Linked DNA regions of Homo sapiens: region 2 is linked to region 1. A link means that fine-mapping ties the variant in region 1 to the expression of a gene that starts in the linked region. Tissue or cell type: subcutaneous fat. Region 1 holds a variant in brackets; the other region holds the start of a gene. All regions are shown on one strand. Distances are between the middles of the regions.

Region 1 (9,334 bases):
ATTATACCAAATAGCAGTAGATGAGAGATTAAAGTAATGCTTAGCACACAAACTACTTGTTAACATTACAGCAGATAGCAGCAGATATTAAAGTAATACATAGCACACCAAACACTTATTTTTATTACAGTATAATTTCCTCATCCTTCCCAACAGAACTATCTCTTGCCCATATGCCATACATTTTCAATGACAGGAATAGTCACTAGAATATTCAGTAAATCCAGAATTCTTTCTGTCCTGGGGGCCTAATCATACCTCTGCTATGAAGAAGCAGGATTTTATTGACACTGGTTCCCACATATAAAAGTAGAGCACAACCAATTCACCCTATAGAGAGGACACAGTGTTGGTCTTTTGATGGCCACTAACTGCATCACAGGAAATGCTGGCTCTTTTTAAATTCATGGTGTATATATTGTAAGGGAACGATAACAGGATCACTTGTTCCAGTGACATCCTGCTATAGTTCAGGTGGTCCTTACCATTTTAATATTGCATCTGTCCGGCTTGGACTTCTAAAGCACTCAGGCATTTTCCTTTAAACACAATAGAAATAAAGTGTAGCAGAGAGCACTTCCTGGATGAGCATACAGGCCCTCTCCCATAGGTTTTGTACAGGATAATGTCCCAAATGACTTTTCTTCCCTCCAGATAAAAATAAAGCCTCACCAAATCCTTTTCCCACTCTTATAAATAGATGATAGGTTTGCAAAGGTAAAAGATAACAGGTCCTCCTCTACCACTAGGCAATAAAGCAGCACTTAGGGTCAGTCCTACCTTGGTCACACTGGGCAAAATAACTGTCTACATGTCCTTAGGAAAACATATACCCAAGTGCAAAGGAATAAAGTATCTTAAGTAGTATGCTCCCTTTCGTTGGAAGAAGGGCAAATGCAATGTTTGTCTAATGCACTTGATCTGATAACAGAAAAGGAAAGGTTTGTAAGGTATGAAAGACGAAGATTTATGTCACAGTATCATTTCCCAACCCTTTATTCCTGGTACACAAAAAGCTTTCTTAAGGCTGTTCCGCCCTCAATGTCTCCCATGTTTAGGTGAAGCACATACCCCCTTATAAGCTTCCCAGCCAGCCCTTCTTATCCTTCACTTCCTTAGCATCCTCTGTCTTTCAAAATGAATGTTTTAGTTGACTATTCCAATTTTTAATTAAGCCACTCCTATGTGGCTGGTAGGAGTATATGTCCATTACATATGGTTCTTTTTGTCTCATTTTGGAAACTTGGCCATGGTGAAATTCATTCCCTATGAAATATAGTGGGGGGACTCAAAACACTCATCTATCCCCAGAAAGACTCATTGGAATACTCCAGGAGTAATGAACTGGGTTCAGTATAATCCATCTGCCAGTGATGTGCTTGCCATTGACCTCAGGGAATTCTCTCCAGTGCCATTTTTGGACTTTTTTTTCTTCTTGATCGCATTCAGGACAGCCTGTCACAATAGTAATGGCTTTTCTGGGTAGCACTGGTCTATGCCATTGCTTCCAATTGTCGTGGCATGGCTTGAGCACCACTGTGACAGCTCATCTCATACACTCAACTGATTTTCTCCTTTGGGAGACCAGGGCATCTACTTTGGCTTTCTAGCGCTCCTCTGAGACACTACTGGCTGTTCTTTGTAGGCATCTAGAAATGTGCTTCTCCCCAGGAGTTTCCATAAAGACTTCCACAATTGCATCTCTTCACATGAAGATAATCTTGTGTATCTATGTATCAAGGAAGCATTTGCCTGTCTGACACTGCAACACAGTCCTAGGGAAAGCCCAGGAGGCTTTAATATTTAGACACAAGCCTGAGGCCAAGAACCAAGTTCTTCCTGAACCATTAACATATAACATATACTGACCTCTATTCAGGCCACTGTGTATGCTTATCATTGTGTCTTCAGCTCAGATTTTTACAGTACATTGGAGGTTAGCTGTAGCCTTCCATATAGAGTCCCATCATTCAGTGCAAGGACTCTCATTAGCAAATAAGTCAGATATTTTGTCTCAGCAGGGTTCAGAACCTTTGGCAATAAGAGTGGGTAGCTCCTCCAGAGTGCCACTGTAGAGGCAGAGATGTTACCTGCTCATGGATAGAGTGCATTTCCTCAGAGTCTATCTTTTTTAGCATGTTCCCAAATATATTTTATCAGTCCGTTCTCACACTGCTAATAAAGACACACCCAAGACTGGATAATTTATAAAGAAAAGAGGTTTAATTTTTCAGCATGGCTGACAAGGCATCAGGAAACTTAAAATCATGGTGGCAGGAAGGAGAAGAATGAGAGCCAAGTGAAGAGGGAAGTCCCTTATAAAACCACCAGATCTATAAGAACTTACTATCATGAGAATAGCATAGGGAAACTGCTATCATGATTCAGTTATCTCCCACTGGGTCCCTCCCACGACATGTAGAAATTATGAGAAAGTATGTGGAAGTTATGGGAGCCACAATTCAAGATGGGATTTGTGTGGGGATACAGCCAAACTGTATCATATATCATTCATATTTTACCAGGGAACTTGTTGTACAACTCCCTTTCTATTGGAATCTCTTTTTATATCACCCATGAGACTGTAGATAACTCAAGCCTCAAGTCACCATAGGTAATGCAATGTAATCTGATGCTCTTTGGGTATGAGGGCTGTTTCTTACTAGAGCCAAAAAGCATGCTAATGCCTGTATCTCAAATAGGCTGTTCTCAGACACAATATCATGAATTTTTTTTAGTCCAGAACTCCTGCAACCACCTATAAGTAGCATTCTAAGGCTTTGGCTAGGGACTCCAGTCTATGTGTATTTTAGTAGTGGACTTCTCTAAAACTGCTGGTTGTATCAGGATTATAAAATCCCAAAAAGACAGCTTGGCCTACCCTCTGCTCTGGATATCATTCAAATCCATTGCTTTTTCTAGTCACTTTGTATATCGGGGCCAACAGGATTTCCAAATATGGCATATGTGTCCTAGAATCCAAACAACTCTTTGAGAGTTTGTGCCTCTCTTGCTAGTAAAAATGGGTCAGGACAATTTGTTCTTTACTGTGTGTGAAGTGCCTCTAGTGGCCAGAGTATTCCTAGAGAAAAGACTGACCAATCTGGGTCCTGAATCTTAATCAGATTTTTTAGACATCCTTATCTAGTCCTATTGCAGCTATTGTTTGTAAATCCTCCTTGCCTCCATTCTCAGCTTACTTTCTGAGAGGGGAGGTATCATCGTATCATCAGCTTCATGAATCAATGGGCTTTCAGAAATGAAGAGACTCAAATCTTGTCTTATAGGGCAGTAGCTAAATCCTGGAGAATGTGCATAACCTTAGAGGAAGATAGTAAAGTATATGTAATGAAATATCTCTCATGCAGATAAAAATGATGCTTGGCATTTTTTCCAGATTCTATTATCAAAGCACATTCCCTGCCGAACCTCCTGGTAGTTTTTAATCATGTCTGGCATAACAGAGACTTTGGGGAAAATTGTTTCACTTAATTCTGCATTTTCTCACAGGACAGACAGGACTAACGTGAAGAGAATTGATGGGGATGAGCACAACTGTTTCCACGACCTCTTTAATCATGACTGAGATTTCCTGCTACTTTCCTGGAAAATGATGCAGTTTAGTATTTACTACAGAAAAGGGCAATTGTAAAGCCTCCCACTTAACAGATCTGATAAAAACCTGGCAAAGGGCAAATCCCTAGCATTCAGCTATAGACCACTAAGAAGGGCAAGACCTTCTGCTTTTGCTTCATAACCTTTCCAGTTATTCATTCAAGCAGAGAATAGCAGCACTATTCTTATCTATTTCCACTATTTCCTTATCATGTTCCTCTCTGGTGCTCTACTAGGGCCTTGGAGTCTTCCCTCACAGTATCTCCTTCCCACCCCAGCCCTTAGCTTCCTCTTTGGCTTCTTAACATTGTGTTTTTGCTCCCTACATGTATTATAGTACTTTATGTACCGATATTCAATTGTCTCAAAATGTTTTGTTCACCAACCCTAGGATATTCGACTTTAACCAAAGCACATGGTCTTTGAACTGATCTGTGGGATAGGACAAAATATCCTAGCCTTCAAGTTAATCTTTATTGGTTTCTACTGTTTCTACCAATGGTGTTTATTTAGCACACTTTTTATTCAGCACTTTTCTTAGCACAAAGTTTATTCACAACTTTTGTTCTTACAGCATCATTGGATTTTTTAGTAGTGGACTTCTCTAAAACTACTGGTAATGTCAGGTTTATAAAACATAATACCAAAGGGACAGCTTGACTTGCCTTCTTCTCTGGATCTCATTCAAATCCATTTCTTTTTCTAGTCTCTTTGTATACTGGGGCCAACGTATGTGTCCTCCAGAATCCAAACAGCCCTTTGAGCCTTTGTGCCTCTTTTACTAGTAAAAACGAGTCAGGA[C/T]AATTTGTTCTTTACTGTTTGTGAAATGCTTCTAGTGGCCCTAGGCCAGATTATTCCCAGAGAAAGGACTGACTAATCTGGGTTAAACTCACACAGATTGGCTTAAAGGGATCATATCTCATGGGATTCATTAAGGAAGGCAGCTGGCAGATACGGAGCAAATGTTCCTTTTCCCAACTGGTGATAATGAGCCAGTAAATCTTTTCAGATAATTCAATAAATTTCTTATCTTTTCATCTTGTGTCTTAACAATAAATTTCTTATCTTTTCATCCTGTGTCTTAACAGCCACCTAATGACAGCTGTATCTGATTCACCCTTTTCTTATATCTTTAACTGCCCCCTCCCCTTGCCTTTCTTTGACTATCCATTTTAACGGTTTCCTAGGAGATAAATCTAGGTAACTCAGCCATCCAGGCATGAAATGTTCATCAAAATCTGCTCCCCAACCCTATCCTGTCCTATTTCCTGCATCACAATGATTTGACTCAAGGGCCTGAAAGCCAAGGCTACTTCTGACACCATTGTCTAGCACAGCATTTGTCTTCGGCTAGCAAGCTGAGTCAGGAGACACAGGCAAGCTTTAATATAATACTGTTTACTTAGCATTATAGAAGGAAATAGGCAATACATGAAACAGGTGTACCATCTTCATCTCATCATCACCTCATCTCAGCAGCTACCCAAGTACAAAAAAGTAGTAAAAAAAAAAAAAAAGATTTCCTTTACATCCTCACACACATATGTATGCATGGCTGCCACAAATGATTGCCAAGATGTGTGTGCAACCTTGAAACATGGAAGCTACAGCCTCTATTTCCCACCAACTTTTTATACCATAGTTATCCCACAGGCTCAAAGCCCATGTGCATGAAAACTCACAGCCCCTCTAACCTGAGGCAGATGTTGTGTTCCGCAAAACAAATGAGCCAGTCAAAACATTCCTCATTTGTCTTAAAACTACTGTTTCCATGGAAACAGTCCTATGAGAATCTAAGATCTTTCTGAAGCAGTCTTGATATGCAGGCTTAATAGTAACTCTTCATTCACAAAAGCTTTATACATACATATGTATGTATGTATGTATCTATATATGTGGTTAAAGGTGATGTGTTAATCACCTTTTTAAAATATCTGTATTTATATATTGTTTTCATTTACCACTATCCTTTTGTCTAACCATTTCTAATTTATGAAACACAACACAAACAGAAAGGTGCACAAAATATTAAATACAGTAAAATATAGTATGTATATATAAATCATCATGCATCCATCCCCCAGATTGAGAAACTGAACACTGTCATCACCTCCAAAGCCTCCAGGCTGTTACTTCCCAAACTAAGACTCCTCAATATTCCTTAGTCTTGTGCCTGTCTTTAACTTTTATAATAATCACAACTACATATTGTTTCAGTTTTATCACTAAGTACACATTGCTAAACAATACAGTTGGGTCTTTCCTATTTCAAATTTTTTATAAATACTACCTACTGATTTGTGTGTTTTTGATTTTTTTTTTTGCTCAACATTCTCTAAGATTGTGCAGTGGCCATTTGCTTTTCATTACTATGCAGTATTCTATTATATAAAAATGTCACAATTTATTTAATTCAGTCTCTTATTAATGGTTATTTGTTTTATTTCAAGTTAGGGTAACACAAAGAGTGCTCCTTATAATATTCTTTGCATTTCTTTAATGCAAGCATTATCACTTTTGTTTTGTTTTGTTTTTGTTTGTTTGTTTTAAACAAATAGAGTAATGGATAAAGAGAGAAAATGTCATTTACTTAATATCATGATGCTGGTAGAATTGGACTTTAAACCTAATTCTGAAGTCTCTGTGACTCCAGAGTCCATGTTCTCAATTTCTTCAATAGTTCTTGTAATAAGAAGCACGTTTTAATGAAAATAGTGACAATTGAGATGAAGACAATTGACAAATTCAACCAGTTCTAAGAATACAGATTCAATATGATTTTGTGATTGAGGCAGTTGCTGAAGGAGATGGAAAAATCAATAGTAACATTGATTAAGCACCTGGCTTGAGTAAGTGATTGGTGGTGTCATTTAGTGAAATACTAAATACAGAAAAATGACCAGGGTTGGCAGATCAGGAATTTAGATGGACTTGAACACACTGCATTTCGTACCTGCAAGACACCACTTGACTAATAGTAATAGCTAGCATTATTGAAAACTAGCAATATGCCAGGAATTGTTCTGAAGTATTTACATGCATTAATTTGATTCTCACAACAAACCTATGAGGCAGATCCTATTATTGTGTCCATTTTATAGATGAGGAAAGAAAACTGAGGGAAACAAAAGCTTAGTAGAACCTCAATGTTACAAAGCTAGTAAATGAGATGTTTACTTAAGCAGCCACTTCTAAAATTCATATTCTTAAGCATAAAATATGTAAAGTCTTTTGATAAAATGTCATGGGCAATAGGGAGTGAGCTATACAGAGGCTGAAGCTTAGGTAAGAGATCTGGGCTGGAATATAAATCTGAAAGTATTTACATGTCATTGAATATATGTAATTATTAATGTAATATATGTAATCAATTACATCATTAATTATGAGCCATAGGTGATTTTGCCCCCTAGGAGACATTTGGCAGTGTTTGAAGACATTTTGTTTGTCATAACTGGGGTGGGTGCTAATAGTATCTAGTCTGGGGGGTGGGGCAGGGAATTTGCTAAACATCCTACAATGCACATGATTGGCCCTCACCACAAGAAATTATCCTGTTCAAAATGTTAAATTGAGAAACCCTGTCCTACACAGATTAATCATTGGATGGAGGCCCACCTAGGAAGGAAGAGTGATGCGGACTAGGAAACTCTTCAGCTGAGACTTGTCTACTGACAGCACTTACAGCAGCTCTGGTAATAAGTTCTTTATTCCTAACTAGGAATGTATCAGTGTGTCACAGCATCTGTCATGATTATGGAAGGGAGATAAAGAAACACAGCCAGATGGGTCCCTGACGCAGGGGGAACCCTGCTTTCAACCACCTGCTGGGTTCAACAGTGTATGAAGTCATGCCTTTCCATTTCCTGCAATTCTGATGCTTTGACATCTCAGGGTTTTGCTGATCCTGGAAAGCCTACCCCTTCCAGGACTAGCCATCTCCTGGCTCCTATGTAGCCATATCCTACATAGTAAATGACTGGCCCAGGACTGTGAGATTCATATGCAAACCAACAATGCAGAGCTTTCACACCCCACAACCTCCTCTAGGAGGCTGTCACACTCAGGGCCACTATGCGCTGCCCTAATCACTCCAGAGTCAAATACTAGACAACTAGGGACAGTTCCTATACCCCAGAGTCTGCTGGGATTATTTAAACAAGCCAATTCTAAACCTGTTTACCTTGCTGCAGAAACCAAAATAAAGGCTCTTGCTCACGCTCTCCATCACCCCTCAAATCCTTCTGCCTCCTGACTGAATCTGGTGCTTCCCAGCATGGCCTTGTGTGGCATGGCATACCCCTTCCTCTTGGGAACAAACTGTCTATACAATGGCCAGTGTCTCCTGATTTTTGGCGTCACAATACCTGAATAATAATGAAACCTACATTTTAAACTGACTAGGTTGTTTGAATGATTAATTTATTTCTGTTGGGGTTTTATTTGTACGTATGTCTTTTATTTCTTCTTTTTGTATTGAAAGCATTTAAAAACTCTCTGCACGAGATTTGGTGGTCGAGTGGGTGCTATATTTACTATATTAATGCAAATTTTCATTTTTTAAAAATCTGTTTAATCTCCATGATAAAAAGTATATCCACACATGGTATTTGTTATAAACATTATAGATGCACTGTCATTGTCTTATTCACTATCTACCTATTGCTAATACATTCCACCTCTCTGATTTTGAGTCAGATAGTTTATGCGCATAAAGCTTCTACCAAATATTTAATGAAGTATTGTCATTTGTATTGCTTTGTAAAGAATCTGTAATCCCCTTTGATCTGTGTTAATGAGTCATGCATTGTTTATTTCCAAATAATTACTTTTTAACTTTAGCTATTAATGGCTATTTTGTATTGTGATCTAATAACATGGCGTGTACAACTTCAGCTTTTCTTTTTGTAACTGATTTAACATTTTTCTGGCCTATTAGATGACCAGTTTTTACAAAAGATCCATTGGCTTTTAAAATAAAGTGTATATTCTGTTTATTTGGAATATACTTGATCTCTTTATTTTAAAAATCTATAAATTAGAATAGTATATAGCCTTTACTTTTTTACTTTTTTCTTACATGAGTATTCAAAACCTGGGAGATGTTTCTTCAAAGCTAAATTTTTTTCTTTTCTAACTTCATTTTGTAAAATTGTATAGCACAGCTTTTACTTTAAGTATTTTGTAGCTATGTTATTTTTCATATAAAGGTTTATGATTCTAATATCTTCATTGTGGATATATCATTTTTAAACATAAAACTGAAGTCTTTTATAATTTATGATGACTTCTTTGCCTCAAAATCTGATACAGCTGATTTTAATGTTATGATCTTTCTTTTGTTTGCCTTTAGATGATGTATCTATGCCAGTCTCTTTTTCTATTTTTCTTTTCTTCCTTTTTTTTACCTCTCTAGGTCATATTCCCTTAGGTACGTCCCTTGGAAACCACATATAATTGGACTGATCTTTAATAGAACAGTTTAACCCATTCAAATTCAAAACTTTTAAGTTGTTATATCTGAAAACTTTGTTCATTTGCCCTTTCAATTTTAACTTAAAAAACGCTTCTTTACTGTCTTTTTCTTATCTGGATCCTTATGGAATACAATGTTCTCACCTTTATTGCTAACGCTTCATATAATATATATCTTATTTTAAAATTTTACAGATACATAAAAGTTAAAAATAAATTCCAATGATCAATTTCGCAAACCAAA
Region 2 (9,334 bases), 31 kb after region 1:
TGACTTTTGCAAACTGCTTCTTTTTGCATGGCAGGAGAAGGTGGTACTATGGCAGGAGAAAGATTAGGTTGGTTTGGTTAAAGAATCCATAGCATCCCACGAAGGAAGAAACTCAAACCTAATACCTTAGGAAATTCTCTGTGAAACCTGGAGTTTCAGTGATGCAACATTTGGGGAGTGGCTGATTGTAGTATGACACTAATGCTCAATCATAAAACATAGGACTTCCTTCCTTCAACACACTGAGAGGCCCTATATCAACTGGTGGAGTCATTTCCGAACTCAGGAAGTGCTACATCTCCCTGCTGGCTCTGGTTTCCACTAAAGACATGCATCTCCCTTAGCTGCCACCATGCCTGTTTGCAGAATAGGGTTTCCTTCAGGATAGGGTTTCCTTAAGGAGAAATGTTCCATATATAGTCAATCAATGCATTAGCATTTAACAGCACCATTCAACCAGAGGTGAACTTTCTGCCTTCTTTATTTGGGAAGGCAGAACGCTCTCCCATCTCTGTCACTCAGGAGGGCCATCACCTGGGCAAGTACTTGGATCAGAGAATGAGAAAAACTTTCACCAAAGGGGCTTGGCCTGTTTAGTTAGAAGTTACCTACACTGAGTTTAATTCTGGGTTATGTACATCAATTCTTAGAAGAGCCTTATCTAATGCATCAAGAAGTCACCCTAAAACCTGTGACCACTACGAGGCCAGTGAATTTTAATCATGACCTACCAAGGCAAGTTTTTTCCTTGGTCTGATAATAGTTCGTGAATTTATGTGGGATAGAGTTAGAATGGATTCCTTGCTGTCAGGATGCTGGTAGGTACAGTGAAAGGATCAGAGCATTAGGGGAAACAATGAGTTTGGCTCTCTGAATTATCTACTGCTATAAATTGGTGGAAACTTTAGTGTTTTACTCATGGCACTATTGGAGTTACATTCTTTGCATCCCAAACTGTGTCAAGGAATACCTTAGTTACACCTTCACAGATACCAGATATGATAAAAAGAACAGAACAATTTAGTTAATTAAGAAATTATTGCTGTTTCATATTACTCCCTATAAATGTATAGGGATTAAAAGAATAAAACAGTAAGTATAAAATAGTAAGGGAGAAAGTAGACTTTATATGGACAGTGAAGCATACTGTGATGGATAATTGGACTATTGTTTGGGGATTTAGTTTATTTTATTTTGTTACTACTTAGAATCTAAAAATCCTTCAGGTTTTGGAAGAATAATGTATTCTGTGTTTTGTGCCCAATTTCCCATTAAAGCCAAAAGTTCTGGGCTCTACTTCAAGGAGGCTAAGGAGGAAAAGACATACAGCCTAGAGTAAGCTAATCAAATGATCTCAATCCAAAATTTGAATCTTGAAGCAACGAGGTAGACAACACAGAGTTGAGAAGTCACTCATAGTGGTGTCAGCAGCTTTGAGATCAGTGCAGCCCTGAAAGCAGCAGTGCCCTAATCTGTACTGTTATATGAGGCTGTGTTCCCAATTTCCTAGCCCCTCTTGTTTCCTATCCATTGCCATTACCTAATGTACTAGCCTTCATCTTCATGCTAAATTCTGTAACTTTTTACATAGTCTATTTGTTTTCAGGTTTGCCAGATTCAATTTCTATTGCTTACAAAATATATCTCTGATTAATGTAAGTGGAGAGGATATGGACAGAAATTGATTTCTCATCTTCAGTGACAGGAGTAATGAGCAAAGGTATAAATGGCATATGGCTAGGAAATACTAATGAAACTTCTAGGACAGGGAAAAATAGACATGAAATAATCAGGAGACAAACAATAGGGCCCATTGAAATAGAGGCAAGAAAAAGATGGTTGAAGGTGTAACTGCTTAGGTCTGGGAAATACAAAGAAGACTCTTCAATGCTGATGCCAAAAGATAAGATAAATGGCTGCCGCTTTTCTAGTAGCAAGATAGGATTAACCTGAAGGATCTTGTGGGGTGGGGACTATGATTTTAATAAATGCTAATTAGGATAAACCAAAGGCTACTATTAGTTTATTGTGTTAGAATCTTTCCATACAAGAATTTGACAAAAAAGAAAAAAAAATGGGGGATTTTTTTTTTCTCCATTCTTCCTTCTTTGGATCATTTTTGTCTTTGGACTCTCAGTGACTGATTACCCCTGATGCAACACATTTAAAATGTCTATTTACTACACAAATGAATTTATATGCAGCTCTTTTTCTTTCCAAGAAACCATCTATTAGATAAATGGCATATTCTTCTGGTGCTGTATTTTTAATTAAAAAATACATAAATATGGGCTCACATTAAAAAAGAAAACAGCACTACAGAGAGTAAAAAAGAAAATTCTCCTTCATTCCCCTTCTGTTACATCCCTATAGGTAACAATGCATATATCCTTTCAGATATTTTTATATATCATACATGCACATATATATTTAAAATTTATATTAATATAATGTGAATTTCTCTTGTAAGTATTAACATACTAATCACTTGCTCATTTATCTTGGAGACCTTTCCCATCAGTGCTTATTAATTTACTAAATTCTACATTGTTTACATTCAGGAAATTATTGAACTAATTAAATCTATATGTATATATGAGAGATAAAAAAATTGGATGTGGCAGTTATTATGGCCATCCCATATTTGAAAACAAAATCAAGATTCAGAATGTAATAACATTCTATATGTGATAATTACAACAAAACATTGCTGACTTTCCAGTGATGTCAAGTAAAAAAAAAAAATTCTACATAAAAACACTGTGAAAAAAAGTGATGTGAAAGAAAAAAAGAATATTAACAACATTATTTCTATCATTGCCATCTCAACATTCCCTGACAATAGCAGGGGATAGGTAGAGCAGTCAGAGTTACAAGATGAGGCACTAGCAGCAATTCTAATCCAGTTTATAAACACCATTGTGCAATGAATAGAGTGTGATGCAATGAGAATCTACTTGCCTAATTTATTTACACTGGCAGTCATAAAGTACCCAGTTTTTAAGCAAGTGAGCATGCATTAACATATTTATAAAATAAAATCCTCTCCCTCTCATTTGACATCAGAAAATGTATTAATCATTCCCATAAATATATTAGAATAGGAAACAATGATTATCTCAATAGGTGCAGAAAAAGCATTTAATCAATTAAACTGTCACTCATGGTTAAAAAAAAGCAAACAACAATACATTATGAACTGGAAACAGAACACTTAATAATCTTGATAAAGTATTTACCAAAAACCCACAGCAAACATTGTTATCATTATAAAATGTTAGCAGTATTGCAGTAAAGTGAGGAATGGGACAAGAATGCCATTATTACTTCCATTAAACATTGCACTGGATGCTCTGTTAATAAATAAAAGAAAAAACTGAATAATAAGTGGTTTGAAAAGAGAGAAAGAAGGAAACCATTATTCTTATTTACAAATGATATGATTACCTATATAGGTCATCCAAAGATGTAACAGGGAAATAAAGCAAGCAATCAAAAAAATTCAGCGAAGCTTCTGGAGATAGTACCAATATATTGAAATTGATGCTCTTTTAATACAATGTTACTAAACAATTAGAAAATAGAGTTTAAAGAGAGAGATCTCTAATTTTAGTAATAAAACTAGGAGGCAATATAATGAAAGATACTCAATAAATTACAAAGCATAGTAGCACATAAAGTACCTGAATAAAATAAATATACCATGTTCATAGATAAGAAGACATTTCACTAAATCTCTAAATGCAATTCTCAAGTTGAATAAAATGCCCAATTGAAATCCAATTTTTTAAATGGATCTTGGCTGGCTCATCCTAAAATTTCAATGAAAGAGTAAAGAGCCAAGTATAGTTAAGGCAATTTTAGACAAGAATCATTAGGAGGAGGGGTTTGCAAAATGTTTTAATACATAGAGTTGAGTGCATGGGTGTTCATTATATTATTATTTGTCCTTTCTGTGTTTAAAGTTGCTACAATTAAACTTTTAAACTTGTAGAAGAAAGAATAGTTTCTGATGTTATGTTGGGAAGAATCTTGTAAGCAAGAAAGCAAAAAGCACAAAATTAAAATGTAAAATATTATTAAATTCAAAAAGCTGTATACTGAAGCATAAAGCTTTTGGCAATCAAGAAACATCATAAAAACTGGAAAGACAGTCCATAAACTAAGAGAAGACATTTGCAACACATGTAACTTACAAGAGAGAATTAAACTAGAAAAAATAAATATTATCTACAAAATAATTTTCAAAAGCAAGCAATTTAATAAAAAATGAGATAAAATTAAGAACAGGCTTTAGCAAAAGGGAAAATGCAAATTAAAAGAGCAATCAGATGCTCTTATCAGCAAAAACTTAAAAAGTCTAACAATAGCATAAGGGTAACGATGTGCCAGTCTAGTTTATGGGAAATGGACTTGTATACAGACGAATCTCAAAACCTCTCAAAACCTAAATTAGTGAAAAAAGGGGAAAAATGAAGAATGATTCACATATGAAATATAAAACTAGGAAAATAGTATTTTTAGGGAATCGTACATATGTAACTATTTTCAGAAATACAACGGAATGAGTAATATAAAATTCAGCATAATGGTGAACGGAAGGAAGGAGATGTTTTTAGAGAGTCTTCTTTCTAGAAGACTCCAAAAATACTGGCATTTTTTTTTTCTTAAGCTCTGTAGTGGGTACCTGGGCATTTTTCATTCTTCTTTAAGATATGCACATGAGATATACTCATATGTATATTTCCCAATTAAAATTGGTGTACAAAATCTTTTTAAGGAGAGCCCTTATGAAACTGTTCACATCAGCAAGTTCTAGCTTGAATAAGGACTTCCTGTTACTATGTAACCAAACAAAAGATAGCATTTTCTTGTTTTCTGAAGCTAATGTAAGATGGAAACCTTCAGTTGTAATCCTATTTCAAAAGTTCTTGCTCTTCACATCTGACTTATCCTCAATTATTTCTAGTACTTCAGTACAGATGTGATTTTATAGAATACATTCGCAAATTAAAAACGCCATCTCCATCTGCCTACCTTGGGCTTCCAAGTAAAGTTCTATTTTTACAAAAATCAAAACAGTTCCTCAACTTTAAAAGTTTGAAAACCAGTGTACTTGTAAAGCACTTGATGCAAGCAACTTCTGAATGTTTCACATAAAAACAAACAAAAATGTGTCCTCTGTAATACAGTTAGAGCCTCCCAACAGAGCCTCAGAAGACCGTTTCTAAAGGCAGTGAGTTCTACTTGCAGAAATAGGGCGGGAGTGCAGTCTGACTCCAATCCACACGTCCTTCCCCTCTGACAGAACGCCCCAAAACGCAGTCCTCTCTTTCTTCCGCGCCGCTCCCGCCCTAGTCCTCTTAGACCCGCGACCGGAGGCTCCGGAAGACCCCGAGCCCCGCCCGCTCCGTGACCCCGCCCCCACCCGTCCCGCCCCTGAAAGCGCCCGGAACGCTGTGCGCGCGCCTTCGGGGAGGAGGGGCTGTCTGGGCTCGGGGCGCGGCGGCAGTCAGCTCTATGTTCGCGGTCTTAACCTCTCCTCTGGCCGAGTCCTTGCAAGAAGTGAATTACCCGACCCTGGTGAGTAGCTGCAGGAGTCAGACCTCTTGGAGGCGGCGGCGCCAGCAGCGGCGGCAGGCACGAGGTCCACCGCGGGCGCCTGCGCGCTCGCCCGCCAGCCAATCTGGTGGCCGCTTTCCTCCGGGCGCCCTTTGACCCGGCGCCCCTCTGGCAGGCGCTGGTGGCGCCCAGCGGCGAGCCTGTAGCCCCCTCGATTAACCTAGGCTGTCACTCTTAGGCCTGTTTTAGTCTGCGTTAGTTTTACTGCCTTTTACACTGCTTTATCCCCACCTCACTGGCCTCGTCGCCGCCTCCTCTTTGAAACGGTACCTCCTGTCGCCTCGGATTTTCCTTGTCTCCCCGACAAGGTGGAAATTTCGGGTCGGATGGAAGCCTTTTTCAGCACCTTCTCCTTGTGCCCCCAGACTGCCTCTGGGCCTTGAGCCGACCGGGAGAGTAGAAGGATCGAGGCCTGCTGGGCTCTGGGTGCAACGGAAAGGTAGCTGTCGCCTCTGGGCATCGGGAGGAGACCGCCCGATGGCGAGGCCGCTAGAGATGGTTTTTCAGTTCACCTGTTAACGTGTTTGGCACTGTCATCTTAGACTCTTAGCCTTTGCTAAGTCGGGATGCAACAGTGCTGGATTAGTGTTTTTGTTGTTCCTTTTTCCAAAGAAGCAACTTGAAGTACAGGCAGGTATAACTGTTTGGTTTTGTTGTTGTAAGACCCTACGGATAAGTGTTAGGAGAAAATGTGGAAGTGCTATAAAACAACAACAAGGGGGGGATAATGTTGATTAAGAACTTGAAAATAAGAAAAATGGGACTGGAATAGGCTGTTCACGTTAAAGTATTGAGGCAGTAGTTTGAAACAAAAATATAAAGTAAAACCTAGATATTGGTGATACTGTATCACGTTGTTTGCAAATCACTTTCATGACAATACATCTATTTCAGGTGTATCACACCTGAAAAAAACATGAGTGCTGTGAATTTGTGGATTTTCAGGCTCAATGCAGAAAAACACCCCCCAAAACAAAAAATCACAACAATGAAAACACCATTTCCAGAGCTGTTGCTGTTATTCGTGTGACGAATAGTGAATGTATGATCATAAAATAGAATAAGCTGTCTTTAGATGAAGTTTGGGCACAGTTTATGGAGTAGGTAACAGTTAATCATTGTTTATTAGGTACATAATCCTTAATTGAAAACATAACCATATAGCAGCAGCTTTCATCTTGTGTCACAAAAATAACTGGTGTATCCTCTAAATTTGATTTGTCTAATACCTTAAAGGAAGGCAGAATAGCATGGACAAGAACTTGAGTTCTTGAGCCAGACTCGATCTGCTCCTTGCTAGGTGATTAACCTTAGATTGGTTTCTTGGCCATTTGCTGGCCCAGAGATTTTTGAAAAAGTTACCAACTGCTCAGCTTCATCATTTGTAAAATGAGGTTAAAAAAAATTCTGCGGCCTGGCGCGGTGCCTCACGCCTGTAATCCCAGCACTTTGGGAGGCCGAAGTGGGTGGATCATGAGGTCAAGAGATCGAGACCATCCTGGCCAACCAACATGGTGAAACCCTGTCTCTACTAAAAATACAAAAATTAGCTGGGCGTCGTAGCGTGCGCCTGTAGTCCCAGCTACTCTGGAGGCTGAGGCAGGAGAATCGCTTGAACCCGGGAGGTGGAGGTTGTAGTGAGCCAAGATGGCGCCACTGCACTTCAGCATGGCAACAGAGTGAGACTCCATCTCAAAAACAAAACAAAACAAAACAAAAAACAGAAACTAAACCTCACTGAATTTCTGTTAACCAGAGGGTACAAGTGTTTACAATAAAACTGACCTGGGCAAGGATTGATTTTGAAACTGATTTTGAAAGTTCCAGATGTGTCTTCTAGTATTGAGTTATATTTATCTCCGGTGGCTTCATACAAAATAAAATTAGAAGAAAACAATATATTTTTTAAAAAAAGCACCAGAAGTCTGTGTGATTTAATTTAGTTAATTGAAAGGGAAGTCTTTTTGGCTTTTGTGAGTTACATGATAAAAGCAAATAATTTTTGAAGTACTAATTCATACCACCCTGCTTCTGAATCTCTTGGGGTCTCTTAGCTAGCTGGATATGTCCAATAATTTTTTATTAGACATCACTAAGCTTCAAGTCAGCATTTCAAAGGATTAAAAGCACAAAACTCAAAAAATAGAAGCTACAGGTTCAAAAGAACCTATTGTGTATGAGTAATGTAAACAGTCTTTTGAGGAGAAAACAGATTTTCAGTAGCCAATACTTTGAGTAGGTCCCTGCCTTGGAAAGATATATCTGCAATAAACTTGTAATATTTTCTCTATGGTGACTTATAATACTTTTCTTTTATTGAAGCTAAATTAGTTCCTCCACCCCTTTCCTGCAAGATCAGACATTTTAGGCATCTCAAGGGTCATTGTGGTTTTACAGCGTTGAAGATGATTTTTTTTATTAAATTGGATTTTTAAAATTATTGGATCTTTACGATTCTTTATAATATGTTCAGTATACACCGTAAACTTATCAAGTGTGTATACGGTCAGTAGTCTATATATACACACACACACAGATATACATATATATATATACACACACACTGCCTGAATACCAATGAAACAGCAAAGAGCCAGAAATTAACTTTTTTAAAGCTGAACACTTAATGAACACTATGTGAAAGATATGTTATGCTCTACTAGAATGTGAAGATAAAGACTCCATTTCTGAAACTTAAGGAGCAATCTAGTAGGTGATATAAAGATAAATGCACAGCATGATATAATACATAAGGAATGACAATTTGGCCGGGCACGGTGGCTCACACCTGTAATCCCAGCACTTTGGGAGGCAGAGGCGGGTGGATCACGAGGTCAGGAGATCGAGACCATCCTGGCTAACACGGTGAAACCCCATCTCTACTAAAAATACAAAAAATTAGCCAGGCGTGGTGGCAGGCACCTGTAGTCCCAGCTACTCGGGAGGCTGAAGCAGGAGAATGGCATGAACCCTGGAGGCGGAGCTTGCAGTGAGCGGAGATAGTGCCACTGCACTCCAGCCTGGGCAACAGAGTGAGACGCCGTCTCAAAAAAAAAAAAAAAAAAGAAATGACAATTTAAAAAGTAAATACTGTTAACAATAAAATATATGAGGAATAAGTACTTTTCACTGTGGAATTAGGAGAGGTATCAAGAAGAGGCAGCATTTCAACTTTGACTTGAAGGTGACTGGTATTTCAATAGTTGGTCATATAGAGAATAGGCATTTAGAATAAAATGTGTTATATTTTAATTGCTTGTCGGACACCCATCTTTAATCATCATCATAAACAATTGCTCATTTATTTAGTCTTATACTAAGCCACATGATTTTGAGAGTTTTACAATATTAACTAATTTCATCCTCACAAAAATCCTATGAGTGAAGTAATAACTCATTCTATGGGTGAGGAAAGGAACTCAGAAAGATCAGGTCAGTTTTGTAGGTCAGATAACTAAAAAATGGCACAGCTGGAATTTGAGCTCAAGCATTTGAACTACAGAGCTCATATTTTAAATCTCAATGCCCATCTGTGTTTATTTAGGTTGAGATGACTTAATTGAGACATGGAGGTTGAGCCAGAGCCAGCAGATCATCTCTTAAAATTGAGCTTGTGTGTCATCTATAATGATGTGATAAACACACATTTTAATTGAATGAATGAAGTAATGTAAAATGAGAAGACAGAGGATCAGCTTAAGAAATTACATTC

What was found.
Region 2: it holds the start of MANEA, and the variant in region 1 is fine-mapped to the expression of MANEA in subcutaneous fat (GTEx, PIP above 0.99). The same link has a PIP of 0.9 or more in atrial appendage, breast, liver, lung, skeletal muscle and sun-exposed skin.

What each region holds. Positions count from the first base shown.
Region 1 is chr6:95,540,989-95,550,322 of GRCh38, forward strand. No RefSeq gene overlaps it. Among named protein-coding and RNA genes, the nearest start is that of MANEA-DT, 32 kb to the right of the region's middle. RefSeq lists a silencer at 3,692-3,892 and an enhancer at 8,032-8,648. The variant C/T (reference allele first, on the strand shown) is at 4,417.
Region 2 is chr6:95,572,056-95,581,389 of GRCh38, forward strand. It overlaps MANEA (mannosidase endo-alpha), which reads left to right and starts at 5,480. Exons shown (of 5, transcript NM_024641.4): 1 at 5,480-5,583. It overlaps MANEA-DT (MANEA divergent transcript), which reads right to left and starts at 5,396. Exons shown (of 3, transcript NR_104136.1): 1 at 5,038-5,396. RefSeq lists silencers at 5,220-5,299, 5,350-5,439, 5,720-5,779 and enhancers at 5,576-6,516, 5,980-6,079.